Homo sapiens: one gene and its partner. The protein of the gene in region 1 interacts with the protein of each later gene in a biochemical or structural test. Each region holds a gene or a part of one and is shown on either strand. Other genes may lie near its edges. The genes, in order: PRKAG2 and SLC31A1.

Evidence for each region.
Region 2: of the proteins of PRKAG2 (region 1) and SLC31A1, one has a biochemical effect on the other in vitro, tested with the Homo sapiens proteins (one study listed by BioGRID).

What each region holds. Positions count from the first base shown.
Region 1 is NC_000007.14:151,865,449-151,874,767, reverse strand, and holds part of PRKAG2 (5'-AMP-activated protein kinase subunit gamma-2), read left to right. Parts: intron 1-9,319. UniProt on the Homo sapiens protein: AMP/ATP-binding subunit of AMP-activated protein kinase (AMPK), an energy sensor protein kinase that plays a key role in regulating cellular energy metabolism.
Region 2 is NC_000009.12:113,223,744-113,233,062, reverse strand, and holds part of SLC31A1 (high affinity copper uptake protein 1), read right to left. Parts: intron 1-9,319.

The DNA of each region.
Region 1 (9,319 bases):
TACAGGCATGTGCCACCACACCCATCTAATTTATTTATTTTTTTTGTAGACATGAGGTTTTACCATGTTGCCCAAAGCTGGTCCACATGAGCTGGGCTCGAGTGACCCGCCCACCTTGACCTCTCAAAGTGCTGGGATTACAGGCGTGAGCCATCACACCCATCCCGGGAAAACTCTTGACAAGTGTAAAGTGTCCTATAAATGTATGGCTTATACATATACATATACATATACATATACATCATATACATATACATATACATCATATACATATACATCATATACATATACATCATATACATATACATATACATCATATACATATACATATACATCATATACATATACATATACATCATATACATATACATATACATCATATACATATACATCATATACATATACATATACATCATATACATATACATATACATCATATACATATACATCATATACATATACATATACATCATATACATATACATATATATCATATACATATACATATACATCATATACATATACATATACATCATATACATATACATCATATACATATACATATACATCATATACATATACATATACATATACATCATATACATATACATCATATACATATACATATATACATATACATCATATACATATACATATACATCATATACATATACATCATATACATATACATATACATCATATACATATACATATACATACATATACATCATATACATATACATCATATACATATACTTATACATATACATCATATACATATACATATACATCATATACATATACATATACATCAGACACCTAGTTTTTTAAAAAAATATATAGAGAGAAACAAGAACATGCCATTGTCCAGTGGTTGGGCCATTTTGTGTGGCAGCCACATGCTGAGGCTGGTTCCAAATGCAGGGTGTGAGTGATGTGTGGGCGTGCCCGTGGGGTGGTGCCAGCGATAGTGTGAGACAAAATCCAGAACCAGAAAAAGGACTGTGAGGCCAGGCCGTGAACGTTGAAAAACCATGTTATAGTTGGGGTCCTCGGACCACCCTTCTTGCTGCCAGTGGTGACTTTGGCAGCTTTTCATAACGTTCTTGGCATGAGCCAGCCCACCGCGAAAGTAGTATTCATTCAGTTATTCCACAGTGGCTGAGGGTGACCACGTGCCCAGGCTCTGGTTAGGGTGAGATCTGGGGAAGATCTGCCCAAGTCCTCACAGGGCTTGCAGTTGCTTTGGGTACCAGGGAGGTCCCCTCATCTGCCTAATGGTCATTACCTATGGATCATTGTGCCAGGCTAGGTGGCAGTTATAACCTCGCTGGGAAAATGAGGCTTTCAGACAAAGGCTAGCAAATGATCCAGGGTCATACGATGGCCAGTGCAGACCACACCTGTTTCTAGAGGCAGAAGGAGCGATGACAGTGGCCTGATGTGTTTAGAGAGACTTTACACCCAGAGATGGCAGGCAGGAGTCACGTAGAAGTGGGGGTGATACTCCCACTAAGGAACCAGTGGGAGCACCCCACAGAATCGGGCGGGAGGGGATGGCTGCTTCCAGGTGAAGAGCCACGCCTCCTGGCGAAAGGGTTTGAGAGCTAGAGTCATAGGAAATGCTTTGAGACTGGATCAGGAAGGACCTGGACATAGGGTTGCCAGCTGTAGTAACTAAAAATACAAGATGCCTAGTTGAATCTAGATTTCAGGTAGACAATGAATCATGTTTTAGCATAGGTATGCGCCATACAATATTTGGGAAATACTAAAAAGTATCCATTGTTGATGTGAAATCCCAGATTAATGGGGGCGTCCTGTATTTGATCTGGCAATGCTGCCTTGAAGACCAGGCCTAAGGCGTGAGGACCCCCTCCTGAAGGCGTGAAGAAGCTGCGGTGGACGCTGTGGATAGCCTCCTCCTGGTGCCTGGGGCCCAGCCCACCCTCACCTGCAGCCTTGGTGGACTGCCTCTTACTCGTGTCTCCCTCCCCACCTGAAGGAATCCTCTCAGACCCTGGCAGCTTGCTCAGCCTAGTGCAGGAACCCCTGGAAGTGCTGGGATTATGCCCTGAGGGGCAACCCTCAACCCAGGAGGGGTCCAGTTGGTGGCCAATGGCCCAGCCGCCCTGCTGCTCAGTGGGAAGTTCTGACCTGGGTTCTGCAGGATGCCTCAGGGGATCCCTAGCAGGGTGGGGATCCACAGTGTAACCCACTCGTTAATGCACCTTACTGGCCCTTCTGGCCAGTTCCTGCCTCAGTTTCCCCATTCCCTTGTCTGCACTCCCTGGGATAAACTCCTGAACCTAAGTTCCTGTCTGAGTGTCTTTTCTGGGGGGACCTGAACTAAGAAGCCATTAAAGGTAAAGAAAACAGCATTCCATGGGAATCAGCCTGGAAAAGTGTACAGAGTGGAGTGATGGGAAACGGGCTGGTGTCAAGGAAACCAACTCAAGTACTTTGGCAAAAGCCCCCCCCCAGGGTAAGGGTCCGAGGGCCTGAACTGCAGCTGTGATGAGAGAATGCAGAAGGGCAGACGTGGGACGTGAGAAGGCCAGCCTAGTGGATGGCAAGGGGTTGAGGTGGCAGGAACTGATGTGGAGGTATTTGGGATAAGGGGCCGGTTCTTGGGGGAAATGATGAGTCTGGTCATAGCCCGGGTGTGTCTCAGCAGAGGGCAGCACGTCCATGGGGAATCACATTTGCTTCCTCACCCCAGCCTCAGAGGACTGTGGTGTGCAGGGACTGCCACTGCCAAGGACATCTTGGATTCTGAGGAGTAATAACTCTTGAAAGACACTGTGGCCCTGGCTGGCCTGTGACTGGGGTCATTTGGTGGCCTCCTCGGACCCCTAGTGCCCAAGCAGCTTGTCTCTTCATTGAATTGGATTGAGTCGTTTTGGGGACCTCAGCCTCCAGCCCATATCATAAACAGAACCGTGGCCTAGGGTGTTGGAGGCAATTGTTGCAAACCTCCTCTCTCGGGCTCTGATGATTTTGAATGTCCCCACTGCCCGCTTCCTGTCAACAGCCCATCTAGGCTTTGGGACACCAGGAAGGAAGAATCCATTTTAGGGGACAGCCTAGGGCCAGTGGGTAGTGGACGGTGGTGGAGACCTAGAACTACTAAGTAATTTATCAATTGAATTCGGTTGATGGCTGTGTACTGGGGAAGGGAACGTGGCCCTTGGACCTAACGAAGGTGTCGCCTTGCTTGGCTTCAGCCTTTCTTGGGCATTTTGGGTCACCTTTATGGGCACAGCTCCAGGGTCTTGGAGGAGGAGGGGGAGGATGCAATGGAGAGGAAGGGGAAGGACTGACGGCACATTCTATCCTGAGGCCATGCTGGCCTTTCAAAGTAGCAAAGGGCCGTAGAGGTCAGAGTCCTGGCCTGTTGGCATCCCGCCTTGGCTCCCTGCTCTGAGCCTCCATGCCTCTTGTAAGGCATGGCTGATTATGAAGGTGATGGGAATGGTTTTAGGAAGTAACTCACTGGAAGCGTAGCTGTGCGTGGTGTTCTGCCGAGACTTTGGTAGCAAGCGTGCTCTTTCTCCCTTATGTCGGTCTAAGAAAAAGCAGCTTCCCTATTAGTGCTAAAGTTCATAGACCCCATAGACATGCTTTAATCAAGGCTGGCTGCCATGTCGTGTGTCTCTGGAACTGTTTCAAGCCAATGACAGAGCTGGAGACCCAGGGAGAGGGAAGACGTCAGAGAGATGGACCCAAGGCAGAAGTCTTTGGGGACACTGAGGCAGGCTGGAGGAGTTCAGATGGTTGCTGCTGAGTGGGGCATTTCTGTCAGAATGTACATGTCGCTGGCCCTCTGGGGAGAGGTGCTCCAGAAAGCCTGCACAGTCGCTGGAGACAAACTAAAAGTAGAGCCAGGGAGCTGGGCAGTCACAACGTTTGCAGAGATGGGGCTGGGCTTGGGCGGGCCTGTTGCCAGCGGTGCCTCCCCCCGCCGCGTGGCCTCAAGGGAAGCCCCGCGCTGCGAGAAGGCCACGCACCCTCCGAGCTGGTGATGGCCTGGGACCTTTGCACCCAGCTCCTGCCCCATAGCCTCTATCCGGCTGGAATGAGCCAGTTTGGGAACTCCAGGATGAGGGTGGGAAGGGGAGCCCCGTCCTGCCCCGGGGCTGGAGGATCGAACCGTGACAGTGCTTTGTGCCCCTCACACCACTGAAACGCTCCGGATGGAAGCCTCCGCAAAGGGAAGGGGGATGCTGTGTGGCACAGTGGACGTGTCAGCTTTGACCTTGGCCAGTTTGTACCATCCTGAGCAAGATTTGCTGGATTAGGGTTTAGGGCAATGTTTAACAAAGTGTGGTTCATGGACTAGCTTATGTAGAAGCTCCCAGTGTTTGTTTAGAATATAAAATTCTGCTTCGTAGCCCAGACTTACTGAATCAGAATGCCTGAGGGTGGGACCCATGAGTTTGCATTTTTCTTAAGTTCTCCGGTGATTCTTGTACCTACTGGGGCTTAAAAACAACTGGGTACTATTAATAGCTTCCCTGGTGTAATACTGTTCCATTTCTTCTGCCCCCATGAGTTATTCCTCTGTCTGCCTGCCTGCCTGCCTGCCTGCCTGCCTGCCTGCCTGCCTGCCTATCTATCTATCTATCTATCTATCTATCTATCTATCTATCTATCATCTGCACCTTTTCAGCTGTCATTGAGAAGAGATATCCTTGACTTTTGACTATTCAACAAAGGCAATTCAACATTTGGCTTCCAAATAAAGATGAATGCCCAAACCAGCCTGTAGCCAGAGCTGCCTGTGTGGGCCAGCCCGTTAGGCCACGCTGCAAGCTTTCTTGACTCAGCCCTTCAGTGGCTTCATGCATCTTAGATGCCCTGCCGTAAGCTCCAATAGGGCCCAGAGTATGCTATGGGAACCTTCAGTAGTCAAGCTTCTTGGTGATGGGGTCCTCAGACTGGCCTGTGGCTCCAGGGTTTTTGATGAAGCTTGGTTGCCGCTCTGCAGCACGCTGGGTGTGAGAGGGCTGATCAGCGAGGGTCGTCCTCAGTGGGGCACGGCACATTGGCCCAATGCCGCTTGAGCACGGCCCAGTGCTGGTCCTGGAGGGAACGGGCAGCTAGACAGTGATGCGTGATCACTTCCTCAAAGACTCTACCACACAGAGGGCGCAGGGACACCCACAGAGCAGCTCACATGGGGGAATAGTGCGGAGCCTGCACAAACCCATGGGCCTGCAGAGTCACATGCTCAGTGCCTTGCGGGAGTCACCTTGGAGCTGCCTCGTCCTCTTATCCCTACTTCACAAATGCCCAGCTGAGAAAAAGCCTGTTCATCATTACATGGTAGATGACAGGGTTAATTACAGTGGAGGTGAAATATGCATCTCTGCCCTCATCTAGCCCCCGCTGCCCTATTCGCGCTTGGTCCTGGTACCTCTTTGTGGAGGGTTCCAAGATTCTTATATAAACGAGGCTCTACATACTGCAGAGGAGCAGCCTACTGATGAATGCAAAGAGTTAAATCCTGGATCATGATTTCCCAGCTCGAGTACTGAATTAACATAAACAGAAGCAGCAGCCAGCAGAGTTGGTGGGTTCAATCGATATTGCATCTTTTCACATGTCACAAACTTGTTAGGAGTCTCAGTGCATTGCTAGTGTCTTTTCCTGCCTCTTTTCTTTGAACTGCCCCCCCCAATAAAACCTCTCAGAACAATATTGCTAGTTTGCACTCAGGGTTTGCAATTTGGACTGTGCTGAACACTAGACTGGCGAAAGAAATCATTTGGAAGCACTTTTTATTTGCCAACGCCTCTTCATCTACTCAGACTTCGCTTACGTAATTTGTAAATCAGTTTGTATCTTCTAAAACCTTCAGGCAAATACATGTGCTCTTAAATATTCCTGTTTCTTGGCTGTTTATTTTCTTTTGCTCTCCCTGTTTTCCTATAAGAGCTGATTTTGGTGTATTCAGCTCATGGCCAGTGTCTTTCTGTTTCTAGGCACCTTTTTACATTTATGGGGGCTGCTAAGGTTACCGAGTAGAGCCACAGACACTGACAGGAGCCGAGTGAGAATGTGGCTCACCCGTTCTCCTCCCTCCGCCCTCCCTTCGGCCAAAATGGGACCAATGAACGTGATCACCGATGAAGCACCAGCTGTCTGCCGTCCTTTCAGGACGGTGAACCAGCCCATCCTGATAACCCCACAGTTCTGTCAACGTCGTTTAAAATGCGCAACAAACAAAGGCCGATGGGCAGCTGAGCTGTGACGTTGAAACAGAGTGGTGACTTTGCTTGGTTCTTTAACCGTGACTCGCTCTGAGATGAGCAGAGGGGCCACCTGAGAGTTCAGCTGCGTCCTTCGGGCTTAACCATACGGAGTTCTTAGAAGCCCCCACTGTTACTCATTGCATGGCTTATGCCCCCAGACCAGAGGAAGGGGTTAGCTATTAACGAGCTGAGCTTCCCCAGTAGAAGAAGGTGATTTGGTGGAACTGTATTTTAGCCCTGCCTTGGAATGGTTAATTGGAATCTCACTCATCTCTTTCTTCCACTACCTACTTTGAAAATAATTTAATCCCTGTCCTTTACTTCCTGTTGACAGGAAGCCCTCTCTGCCAACCCATGGCTGGTCACGGACCAATCGGCTATCACCAGGCTTTGGGGCGTCTGCCAGGGCCTCTGTGTTTTGATATACTCTGACCTGGCAGTGAAGCTGCTGATGAATGCACGACAAAGACCAGTTTGCTCCGTAACCCCAGGCTCCCAGCGTCTTTTCCATGAGCCAAAGGCCTGGTCCTGGAGGGGGGTGCCCTGCAGCTCTGCTGGCCTTCTTCCAGGGGAGTTCATTGCTGGGGGTGGCCCTGCAGTGACCTCCACTGTGCTGGGGAGGGGAAGAAGAAGGATGCAACAGGGTGAGGGGAGAATTTGAGAAAATAGGATGCAAATTCTCCACTTGTGAATAAAGAAATAGAGAGCCATTGCTAAGAACTATGTTTACGCAGGGTTAGTGCTGGGACCAGAAACCAGTCAACTCGTTTCTGTGTGCTTTCCAGGGACTGGGCTGGGTGTCGAGGACACAAAGATGAACAGTGCGATGGAATTGGATTCTCCAAAAAAAAGGTCGAAGTCCCACACCCTCTGCACCCCATACCTGTGAATGGGACCTTCTTTGAGATGGGGTTTTTGCAGATGTGATTAACATATAGATTAGGATGAGGCCATTAGGACCGGCCCTCATCCACTATGCCTGGAGTCCTTCTAAGAAGAGGGAAGTTGCATCCAGAGGCACAGGCAAGAAGGCCTGTGAGGGCGGAGGCAGAGATTGCAGAGCTGCTGCCACGAGCCTCGGAATATGGGCCGCTGAAGGGTGGAAGAGGCAAGGAAGGATCCTCCCGGAGGTTTCGGAGGGCGTGTGGCTCTCACAGCACCTTGATTTCAGACCTCTGGCCTCTAGAGCAATGAGAGAATCCATTCTGTTTTAAAGCCCCCAGTATGTGGTGCCGCATTATCACAGCCCAGGAACCTAATCCAACAGGGCCCTGCCCTCAAAGCACAGCGCAGCCACAGCCTCCGTCCGATAGAGCTGTAGGGCAGGGGCTTGCACTGAGGGGCTCCATGGCATGGCCTGGAGAGGTGGCCAAGGCCCCAGGAAGGGGTCCCAGCGTCCCACTGCCCACAGCACTTTGACACTCCCTTCCAAGGTCTGGGTCTTTCCTTGCGTCCCCTCCTCCCACTGCTGGAAGTTCTAGTGTGGAGGGGCTGTGAGAAAACCAACGTAACGTGACAGAGGCTGGTGTGGCAGCTCTGGGACCCAGGCCTGCTCCCTCTGTCCAGAGCACTTCCTCTTTGCCTGCTCTCCCCTCCTGGGTGGCCACCAAGACTTAGCCTCCTGGGGCCAGGGGTGCAGAGGTGTGTGCGAGGGGTGGGGGTGGGAGGACAGCTCTGTCACCTGCTCAACTTCCAGAAGACGGGCAGGCAGGCAGGCTCCACACAGCCATTTGCCTATTGGGCTAATGTGGAAACCATTTACTCAGCTCCACCCTGCTCACCACCTCAGCCATGCCAGCAGCCATGGGGTGGTGGGCTTGAAGCATACATCACCTGGGCCCCATCCTCATCTATAGCATATGTTGTAATAAGCACCCCAGAGAGCCTTCTTCCTCCATGCAACCTAGATACGCTTGATGGGGAGTTGCATTCATGGTGCTGATGACCGATCAATATTCTTGATTGTATCAGATACCATCTGGGGTGGCATGGTTTTCAACAGATTGAGCTAATATTGCTGAAGCACTTGTTATATGCCAGACGTGTGCTTTTATATGAGCCGTCTCTCTTTATCTCTAAAGTAATATGTGAAATATTAGTATTGTTATTAGTCTTATTATCCTTAATGTAGAAAAGACAGTGTAAGGTTCACAACCATTCTAGCCCAACCTGCTGAGAAAAGTCTCTGTTGTGTCTTGTCAGGTTTTTGATATCTCTGCTTGGCTATGGCCCAGATGCCCCACGAGCAGCCAAGGCCTCCCTGGGGTAGGGGATGAGGCTGGACGGTCAGGCTGAGGCTGGACGGTGGGCCCAGAGAGGGCGGCGTCTGCTGCCTCCCTTCGGTTTGCCCTGTGTGTGTCAGGTCTCCATACGCTTCACTTGGCCCCTTTCTAGATGAAGGTCATTGAAGGTTATTCTTTACCCTTCTTATCTCAAAAATAAATAACCTGTCTTCTCCACTTTCTTTTCTTTTTCTTTTTTTTTTTTTTTTGAGACAGAGTCTTGCTCTGTCACCCAAGCTGGAGTGCAGTGGTGCGATCTCCGCTCACTGCAAGCTCCGCCTCCCAGGTTCACACCATTCTCCTGCCTCAGCCTCCCGAGTAGCTGGGTCTACGGGCGCCCGCCACCACACCCAGCTAATTTTTTGTATTTTTTAATAGAGACGGGGTTTCACCGTGTTAGCCAGGATGGTCTCAATCTCCTGACCTCATGATCCGCCCGCCTTGGCCTCCCAAAGTGCTGGGATTACAGGCGTGAGCCACTGCGCCCGGCCTCTTCTCCACTTTCATAGGTTCCAGTCTCTGGTTCTTCTTTCTCAGTTTGTTGTTTTTGCTTCTTAAATAATGGAGATTAGAATGAACACTACACTCGGAATCAGGAAGCCCTGCCTGGCGCCTCTGTCACCTGTCTAGGGGCTTCTTCTCACTGAGTCATCCAGTATTGACCGCAGCCTGTTGTGTGCCAGGCACAGGGGTCTCACTGTGATCCACATGGGCCCCTCTCTCCCCTCACAAGGCTTAACCTGGGGCATGCCGTCACCCTGTCAGTTCACGTCTGCTGCT
Region 2 (9,319 bases), on another chromosome or scaffold:
GGATGTTTATAGCAACTACCTCTTGACAGTATACACTTAAACACTTACTTAAGCACAGTGTCTAAACACAGGAAGTTCTTGATAAATACTCATTTTTACTTCTCAATCTACTGTTCTCTCTATATATGGTATAAGTGCAATTCCTCAAATCCTTGATTTGTCCACCAACTACCCCATAGCTAACACTTCTTCCTTATGTCTGCTGTTCTTTTTTTTTTGAGACAGAGTTTCACTCTCGTCACCCAGGCTGGAGTGCAGTGGTGCGATCTCGGCTCACTGCAACCTCCACCTCCTGGGTTCAAGTGATTGTCCTGCCTCAGCCTACCAAGTGGCTGGGATTATGGGTGCCCGCCACCACACCTGACTAGTTTTTTTTTTTTTTTTTTAATTTTTAGTAGAGATGGGGTTTCACCATGTTGGCCAGGCTGGTCTCAAACTCCTGACCTCAGGTGATCCACACGCCTTAGCCTCCCAAAGTGCTGAGATTACCAGTGTAAGCCACCGTGCCTGGCCATCTCTGCTGTTCTTGATTTGGGAGCTTGCAGGGGTGTGCAAATGAATCTAACCCATTTAAATTTACCGACAGAGATGGCCTTTATCTATGTTGAATCAGGTGGTCAGTCATTTTTTTCAATTTGATTCCCATCTGTATCACATTTTCTTTGAAATGTTTTAAAGTTTCTGGCTTCTTTCTCCCTGTTTTCTGACTATAAATAATGCTTCTTCATATTCCTATGATAATTTCACTAGGATTTTGGGAAGGAAAAGAGATGAGTTCAAAACGCCATCTTGAAATGGAAATAATGATACATTATACTAGGTTTTTGTCCATCTTTTCTATGTTCCAATTTTGTAAGAGTAGTAGCAATTCTAAGCTATAACATAGAACCATGTATTCTGTGGTATTGCTAAAAACATAACGAAGGAACTGTTTTCAGGGCTACTTTCTAGAAAGTTTGTAAGCTTTTACAAGTTGCCCAAATAATAGGAAGAAGTCCAGTGAGGCACCTAGTTTCAACTACCCAGCAGCAATTTTCCCTGGGAATATGGCATTGAAGAAAACATTTGGAAAGGTAGGACTGCCTAAGTGAGCTGCATGTTAGACCATATAATTCTGTTATCTGTAACTTTACAGGAGTTATAGTCCACATGTGGGCCTGGCTATCGCCTATCCCAGAGTTTATCAGAACTCTTCCACAGAGATACTATGAGTACTTAACGTATGGCCCATAGACAAGTTTTTAAAATCTAAAATAAAAAAAAATCAACACTAATCAAACTCTATCTTCTAAATGTCCAATAAGCTAGAGTTCATATTCATCTAATATTCACTTTGATCTTGATGATTTCATACACATAAAATGGAATTCATGTGAATAAAAAGATACATGTGTATTTTGAATTATACATTCCAATGCTGTTCCTACCAGGTGTGCCTAACTCCACAGCTACCACTAATGCATAACTAAATAAATAATTTCCCCATTTTTTTTTTTTTTGAGACAAGATCATATTCTGTTGTCCCGGCTGGAGTGCAGTAGCATGATTACAGCTCACTGCGGCCTACACCTCCTGGGCTCAAGTGATCCTCCCACCTCAGCCTCCAGAGTAGCTGGGAACATAGGTACATACCATTATGCTCAGCTAATTTTAAAACTTTTTGTAGAGAAGGGGTCTCCCTATGTTGCCCAGGCTGGTCTTGAACTCCAGCCCTTAAGTGATTCTTCTGCCTCAGTCTCCCAAAATGCTCGGATTACAGGTGTAAGCCACCGTACCCGGCCCCCAATTTTTAAGCGCAACACAAAGAATGGCAGCAGGAGCCAGAAAGATAGGTGTGTGTGCGCATTTACTTAAACATAGGCAGACACAGACTCCTCTTCAAGATAATTTACTTGGTCTCTTGTCCTTTCCTGAACCAAATTAAGCATGCAAAGGGATGGCTTGATAGGTGTGTCAAGGCTGAGCAGGGAAAAGGAAGGATATGGCACTTGAGAGGGGAGCAAAGTGAGGTCAGATCACTTTGACATCTACCTCAATTCAACTCAACAAGTATTATGAAGTACCCTCTGCCCCAGAGGCTATAGGGAATTCAGAGATGGAAAGGATGGAGGCTCTGGCTTAAACTTGCTATTGAACAGGGAAAATTTCACAAATGGCTTATTGTACCTAGAAAGAGAATGAGGGAGGTGAGATGGGGAGAAAAGAAAAGTTAGTAGGTTATAGTCAAGAAAGCATGAGGGGCTGATACAATTCTGATCTGCTTTATGGTCCCTAGCTTCCCCAAAAGACTAGTGACTATAGTAAACAATGTTATTGTGGCTATTTCAAAATATCTAGAAGAGAGAATTCTGAATGTTCTTACCATAAAGAAATGATAAATGTTTGAGGTGATGTATACGCTAAACACCATCGTTTGATCATTATGCAATTTATATACGTATTAAAATATCACACTGTACCCCATAAATATGTACAATTATTATGTATTAATTAAAAACAAAACAGGCAGGGTACAGTGGCTCATGCCTATAATCCCAGAACTTTGGGAGGCTGAGGTGGAAGGATCTCTTGAGTCCAGGAGTTCAAGACCAGCCCGGGCAACATAGTGAGGCCTTGTCTCCTCAAAAAATCAAGAAAAGTAGCCAGGCGTGGAGATGCATGCCTGTAGTCTCAGCTATAGGCTGAGGCCATAGGATCTACTTTTGTACTACTTTGGTAGGCTGAGGCAGGAGGATAGCCTGAGCCAGGGAGGTTGAGGCTGCAGTGAGCTGAGATCGCGCCACCGCACTCCAGCCTGGGCGACAGACCAAGACTCTGTCTCTCAAACAAACGAACAAACAAACAAATCCCCAAAAGATTAGTAATTGTTATGGTATCATACACTTTGTAAAGTTATCACACACCTCATAACCATCCAAAAATTTGGGAAGACAGTAAAACACAGACAGAGGCAGATATTTGTTAGGCTCTCTTTGTTTCATCTTTCCATCTTCACTCCCTACATAAATTGTAATAAAGAGCAAATCTTCTGAATCCTCTACTTGGTAAATGCTAGTAAACATAGTTGGGAGACAGTCTCCTTTTGTTCTGAGTTTATAATATTCACCTTGCAAATAGCTTGAATAGTATTATACTGAAAAGCAATAGAAAAATCTACAAGACCATGATGCAGGTGACTTTAGTGAAGTCTGCAATTCAACATAATTTTGGAGAGATTACCTATTCTTGGCTCTTACTTAAGACTTAGTTCTGAATAGTAAGAGATAAAAATTAAGATATTACCAAGAAAATGATACTTTTTCTTTTCCACTAATCATTTTCAGTTAAAGTCTCATAGAAGATCAAAACTAGAACAGTCATCAGTCTGCCCACATTCTTTAACACAGTAATCCCACTTCTAAATATTCATTCTACAGATAAACTGGCACATATGTGAAATGTGTATGTACAAAGTTACTTATAACAGGAGTGTTTGTAATAGCAAAATATTAAAAATACAACCTAAATGTTCATTGATAGGGCACTGATTAAATGAGTTATCATATTTTCATACAATGGAATACTTAGCAGAATAAGAATGAGAACGATCATATATATTGATATAGAATGATCTGTAAGACGTATTATGAAATGAAATAAAAGCAGAATATACTGTATGCTATAATTTGTAAAAAACTTAAAAAGGAAACAGAGTATGTTCATGTTATTTTTATACACCTATACTATCTGCAGGGGAGTTGGGGGGAAACAACAAAGTTGTTGGTTGAGCCTGGGAGGCAAAATAGGACCGTGGTCCCTAAGGAGAGCTGGTCAGAAGTGGGTAGGAGTAAATGAAATACTTTTCACTGAATATCCTTGTGTACTTTTTGAATTACAAACCATATGAATATATTTCCTATTTAAAAAATTAAATTATCAGTCAGGCGCAGTGGATCACGCCTATAATCCCAGCACTTTGGGAGGCCATGGCGGGCGGATCACCTGAGGTCAGGAGTTCAAGACCAGCCTGACCAACATGGAGAAACGCCATCTCTACTAAAAATATAAAATCAGCCGGTCGTGGTGGCACATGCCTGTAATCCCAGATACTAGGGAGGCTAAGGCAGGAGAATCACTTGAACCCAGGAGGCAGAGGTTGCAATGAGCCGAGATCACACTATTGCACTTCAGCCTGGGCAACAAGAGCGAAACTCCAACTCAAAAGAAAAAAAAAAGTATCATCAAATCCAACTCCTTTATTTTACAGATGTGGAAACTGAGGCTTATGTTATTAAATGATGACACTAACATTCTTTAGTTAGGTGAATCCATAACATCTGCTTCTGATAGAAGGCTCCATAACACTAGACTAACCGCTTTCTCCAGCCCCATTTCTCCGGATGGCTTGCTGGGAAGCAGCTAAGCAGGATGGGTTTCTGAGCTTTACATATCCTGTTCTGGTGGCAAATAACATAGAAGCTCCTATTTCTCTTGCCCACTCCCACCCTTCTGTACAAAGAAGATCAAGTGTACAACTACATTCTTCCAAAGGCCTTTACAAAAGCTTTTATTTGCCTGGTTCTAATAGGACAACTCAAATTTGATATGTCAAACAAACAAACTGAAAAGGTCTTTTAGTTATGTAATGATAACAGGGCCTAAGTCCAATGGGGAGTGGATCTCCCAGCTACTTTACTCCATTTCTGTGATACCTTTTGTTGTTGGGTAAGCCACATCCTGGAATAATGTAATCACATGATGCACCCTTTCATGCTCCTCTTACAGGATCCTTTTGTAGCCTTGACGCACTTCCAGTCCGCTAACTGTGCTTTAGTATGATTTATGTGACAATTTCAGTGTTTTCTAGATAGTATCTTAGAGTGGAGAAAGCATGCAGCACGAGGCATCAAAGGCTCTGAGCTCTGGACCCACATTTGCCATATACTAGCCATGTGACATTAGGCAAATCACCAAAATTTGCAAAATTTGCAAAACAGATATTAAAATACCTACGCTGCCAATCTCATAGTATTGTAAGGGTCAAATAAAATATGTTAAATACTTTCCAATTTTAAGGTACAGTAAATATGAAATATAATAGCTTGCTTGCTCATTAGATGACAAAATTAATCTCTGAAAGGAACTAAGTCACACATAAGGCTCACTTTCATGTTTCTTGAAGTATACAGCCTTTCACAGTTTGATTTAAACAAAACTAGCTAGTCAGACAAATATACATTGGCAAAGCATTGCTTTAACTGCTTTATTGTTATAATCAAATGTAGACAATGGTCCTCCTTGTCTAAACTTTGCTTTAGTTATATTACATAGCATTTAAACTGTTTGGATAATAATGTTGTTGGTTTGCCTATGAGTAATATTGGAAATTAATATGGCATAAGACAGAAACTAGAAAACATTTGAACTGTTCCCTTTTTTTTATTCAGTAGGAAAATGCAATTAAATATGTTACACAAGATAAAAGGAACTTGAATGATTTAATGAAAATGCAGTACAAGAATGCAAATGAGGCTGGACATGGTGGCTCATGCCTGTAATCCCAGCACTCTAAGAGGCCAAGGTGGGCAGACTGCTTAAGCTCAGGAGTTTGAGACCAGCCTGGGCAACATGGCAAAGCCCCGACTCTATCAAAAATACAAAAAATTAGCTGGGCGTGGTGGTGCATGCCTGTAGTCCCGGCTACTCGAAAGGCTGAGATGGGAAGATTGCTTGAGCCTGGGAGACAGAGGTTGCAGTGAGCTGAGATTGTGCTCCTGCACTCCAGCCTGGGCAACAAAGCAAGATCCTGTTTCAAGAAAAAATAAAAGAAAAAAGAAAAAAATTGTTCAATATCTCAGATAGAGGCTGTATGGTGTGGCAGTAAAAGTACTGGGCTAGGAACTGAAAGAGGTTCTACATCTGCATTCTAGATCTGGCTCTTAGGTCTCATTTGCTATGCAATTTCAAGGAACTCAGACTATTCTTTCACTATTTATTGCATACCTATCGAATGAAGGTACCATGATGAAACTCTAACCATAAGAAACCCATTCTGGTGAAAGAGGGACACATGTAAATAATTTAAAAATAATGTAAAATGTACTAAGGTATAGATTATGCATAGGGGTTGTGTGAGAACTCATAAAAAGCCATCAGAAAAGGTAGGAGAGAGGATGCGGGTGTATGAGTTACACCATTTCCCTTTCATTTCATAAATTAAATGACTACATTCTAGATGCTGTAAACTGCTTCAAAATTATATAAACACTCATCATAGTTCTACAATAACTCTTCTATCTAGGGAAATATGTCACCTGTTGCTAGAATTTTGCTCTCTTTATATGTTCCCTCCAAATCATTTCTCATATTTACTTTTGAGATTCAGGCTTCCATCTTACCATGCTGTATTTCATAATGTCCTAAGCCTACAAAAGCAGGTTGTATACAAAAGCCTAGGGCCATTGTGTAAAGGAAAAGAGGTAGGGTGGACCCTTCTCAACCCTTTCCTTCTCTGCAGGGCTTTGCATTCCTAAGGATGGGCCCCTCCTCTGCTTGGGGATGTTACCTAAATCATAAAATGATATTACTCAAAGCAATGGAACTTCAAAAGCATTTCCTTCCCAGGCCCTACTATAAGATTTCTTTTGGCATAAACTGTTCATTGTAATGTATTAAGTATCAGACTTTTGATGACTTGTTATACTTAAGTCACAAAACTACAGAAAACTTTTAAGTTTTTAAAATGGATTTAAGAGCTGCATGTGGGAGTACAGGCATCAGGAACCCCCTACCCCTTCCCTCCCTTTTCCCCAGTCAGGCCTGCCCTGTCCACTTTAAAATGCAGTTATTTGGGTGATGCCCTGTTACTAACTTAACTGACAACTGCTAGTTGAAATCAACTTGTCACTGTAAACACTTTGCTTTCTTTATTTCTTTTTTTTTTTTTTTGAGATGGAGTCTCACTCTGTCGCCCAGGTTGGCGCACAGTGGCGTGACCTCAGCTCACTGCAACCTCCGCCTCTCCGGAGCTCAAGCAATTCTCGTGCCTCCGTCTCCTGAGTAGCTGGGACTACAGGTGCCCGCCACCATGCCTGACTAATTTTTGTATTTTCAGCAGACACGGGGTTTCACCATGTTGGCCAGGCTGGTCTCGAACTCCTGACCTCAGGTGATCTGCCTGAGCTGGGATTACAGGCGGGAGCCACCACACCTGGCCGAACACTTTGCTTTTCTAGTGATTATTATATCATCTTTCTCTCTTGTAGCACTTCTGGTGGGAAAGGTGCAAAAAGGAATTAACAGTAGAGATGAGTCTCTGATTCCTAAGTCCTTCTCTACCAAGACTTCCAAGTTGGACAAAAGAGGTAGAGAAAGACTTAGGAATCAAAGACTCTTATGAGTATGGTATCTACTTTCAAAACAGTCATTTCATTTTATTCACATTTAGTATGGAAACTTTATTTTTCTCAATTCAAAATTGAGATTATAATCCAAAGGAAAGCTGAATTGAAAATTTTAACAGATTAATACCAGTGCCCCAAGTGGTGTTTACCATGCCTTCACAACAACCTCATGTTCTAGGGGCCATTAGAAAATGAAGTGGCTACTGACATGGAATGGAGCTAGGGAAATGTAACTTTTTACTTCATACACTCCTAAGCCATTTGAACTTTTTTACATCAATCATGCCATTTAGAATAAAAAATTCCACTTCCTACCAATCTAAGTACAAACTTGTCACCTTGACCTTCAAGGTATTTGACAAATATGGTCCTGGATTCCTTTTCAATTTTAATCCATTACTTTCTTCTGTGAACTGTTGCCTTATACTCTTAGCAAACTATCCCACAGAACTCTCTTATCCAATTTAACTGACATCACACCATTAGGCTATTCTCCAATGTGATGGGAACAACACTTCTGGTTCCCCCTCTGTGAAGTGTGCTTATCAATGGTGACAGTGTGTTTATTCACAAACCTATTTATGCCAGTTGTGCTTATTACTGAAAGTACGTAAATACTATGTAAAGCAATGAAGTATAAATGAGAAGAGAAAAATGACAGCAGCAATTAACACTGAGTACTTACTACCTGCCAGGCACTGTTCTAAATGCTTTACATGAATTAACTCCTATAATATTCACAAGAAACCTAGAAATGGATACTACCATTATGCCTGTTTTACAAAGGCAAAAACTGAGTAACTTGTCTATGGCCTATACAACTAATAAGTGGCAAAGCAATTTGGCTCCAGAGCTCAAGTACTTAACTACTGTACTACATAGACTCTCTAGTAGTTATTTCTAAAACACCACACTGAATGCTTTCGAAAGACCAGATAAAAGTGAGCACACAAGGCCGGGTGCGTTGGCCCACGCCTCTAATCCTAGCACTTTGGGAGGCCAAGGCGGGTGGATCACCTGAGGTCGGGAGTTCCAGACCAGCCTGACCAACATGGAGAAACCCCGTCTCTACTAAAAATACAAAATTAGCCGGGCATGGTGGCACATGCCTGTAATCCCAGCTACTCGGGAGGGTGAGGCTGGAGAATCGCTTGAACCCGGGAGGTGGAGGTTGTGGTGAGCCGAGATTGTGCCATTGCATTCAAGCCTGGGCAACAAGAGCGAAACTCTGTCTCAAAAAAAAAAAAAAAAGTGAGCATACAGATAACACATAAACTTGCTGTTAGGTGTGGGAGACAACAGAAAAGTCTGGAAGGACATTTCATAAACACCTAGAAAGATTCTGCAGTGAGACTGCTTTGCAAGTGACTTTAAGTATTCATTCCATGTTAAAAATACCATAGATAACGTAGGCCAGGGGCTAGCAAGCTCTTTCTATAAAGGGCCAAAAGTAAACATTTTAGATGTTGCAGGCCATGTGGTTTCTGTTGCAATCACAAATATTCAATTCTGCCTTGGAGGGTAAGAGGAGTCATAGACAATACATAAACAAATGAGAAAGGCTGTGTTCTAATAAAGCTTTACTTATAAAAACAGGCAACAGGGTCCTACACTCCAAGAAAAGGCTGAGGCCTTATGTTAAAAGAATGGCAAAAGAATGTTTATGTGTTCGTTAAAATGTTATGCATATAACTATTATCTGTATGATTCCCTGCTTTAACTTACTTCTTCAGTTAACCAACTAATGGCCCTAAGTCTGCTTTCAGTGACTGAGTGAACGGAATGTTATAGATCCCCTAGAACCTGCATTTAATTCATATTCCTATCATTATGCCTGATATAACTTGGTTATAACTTTAAACTACTAATTTTAAAATGCATGCATCATTACAGATTAGTATGGGTATACTCGTATATAAAGACTGTCATCTCTGTTG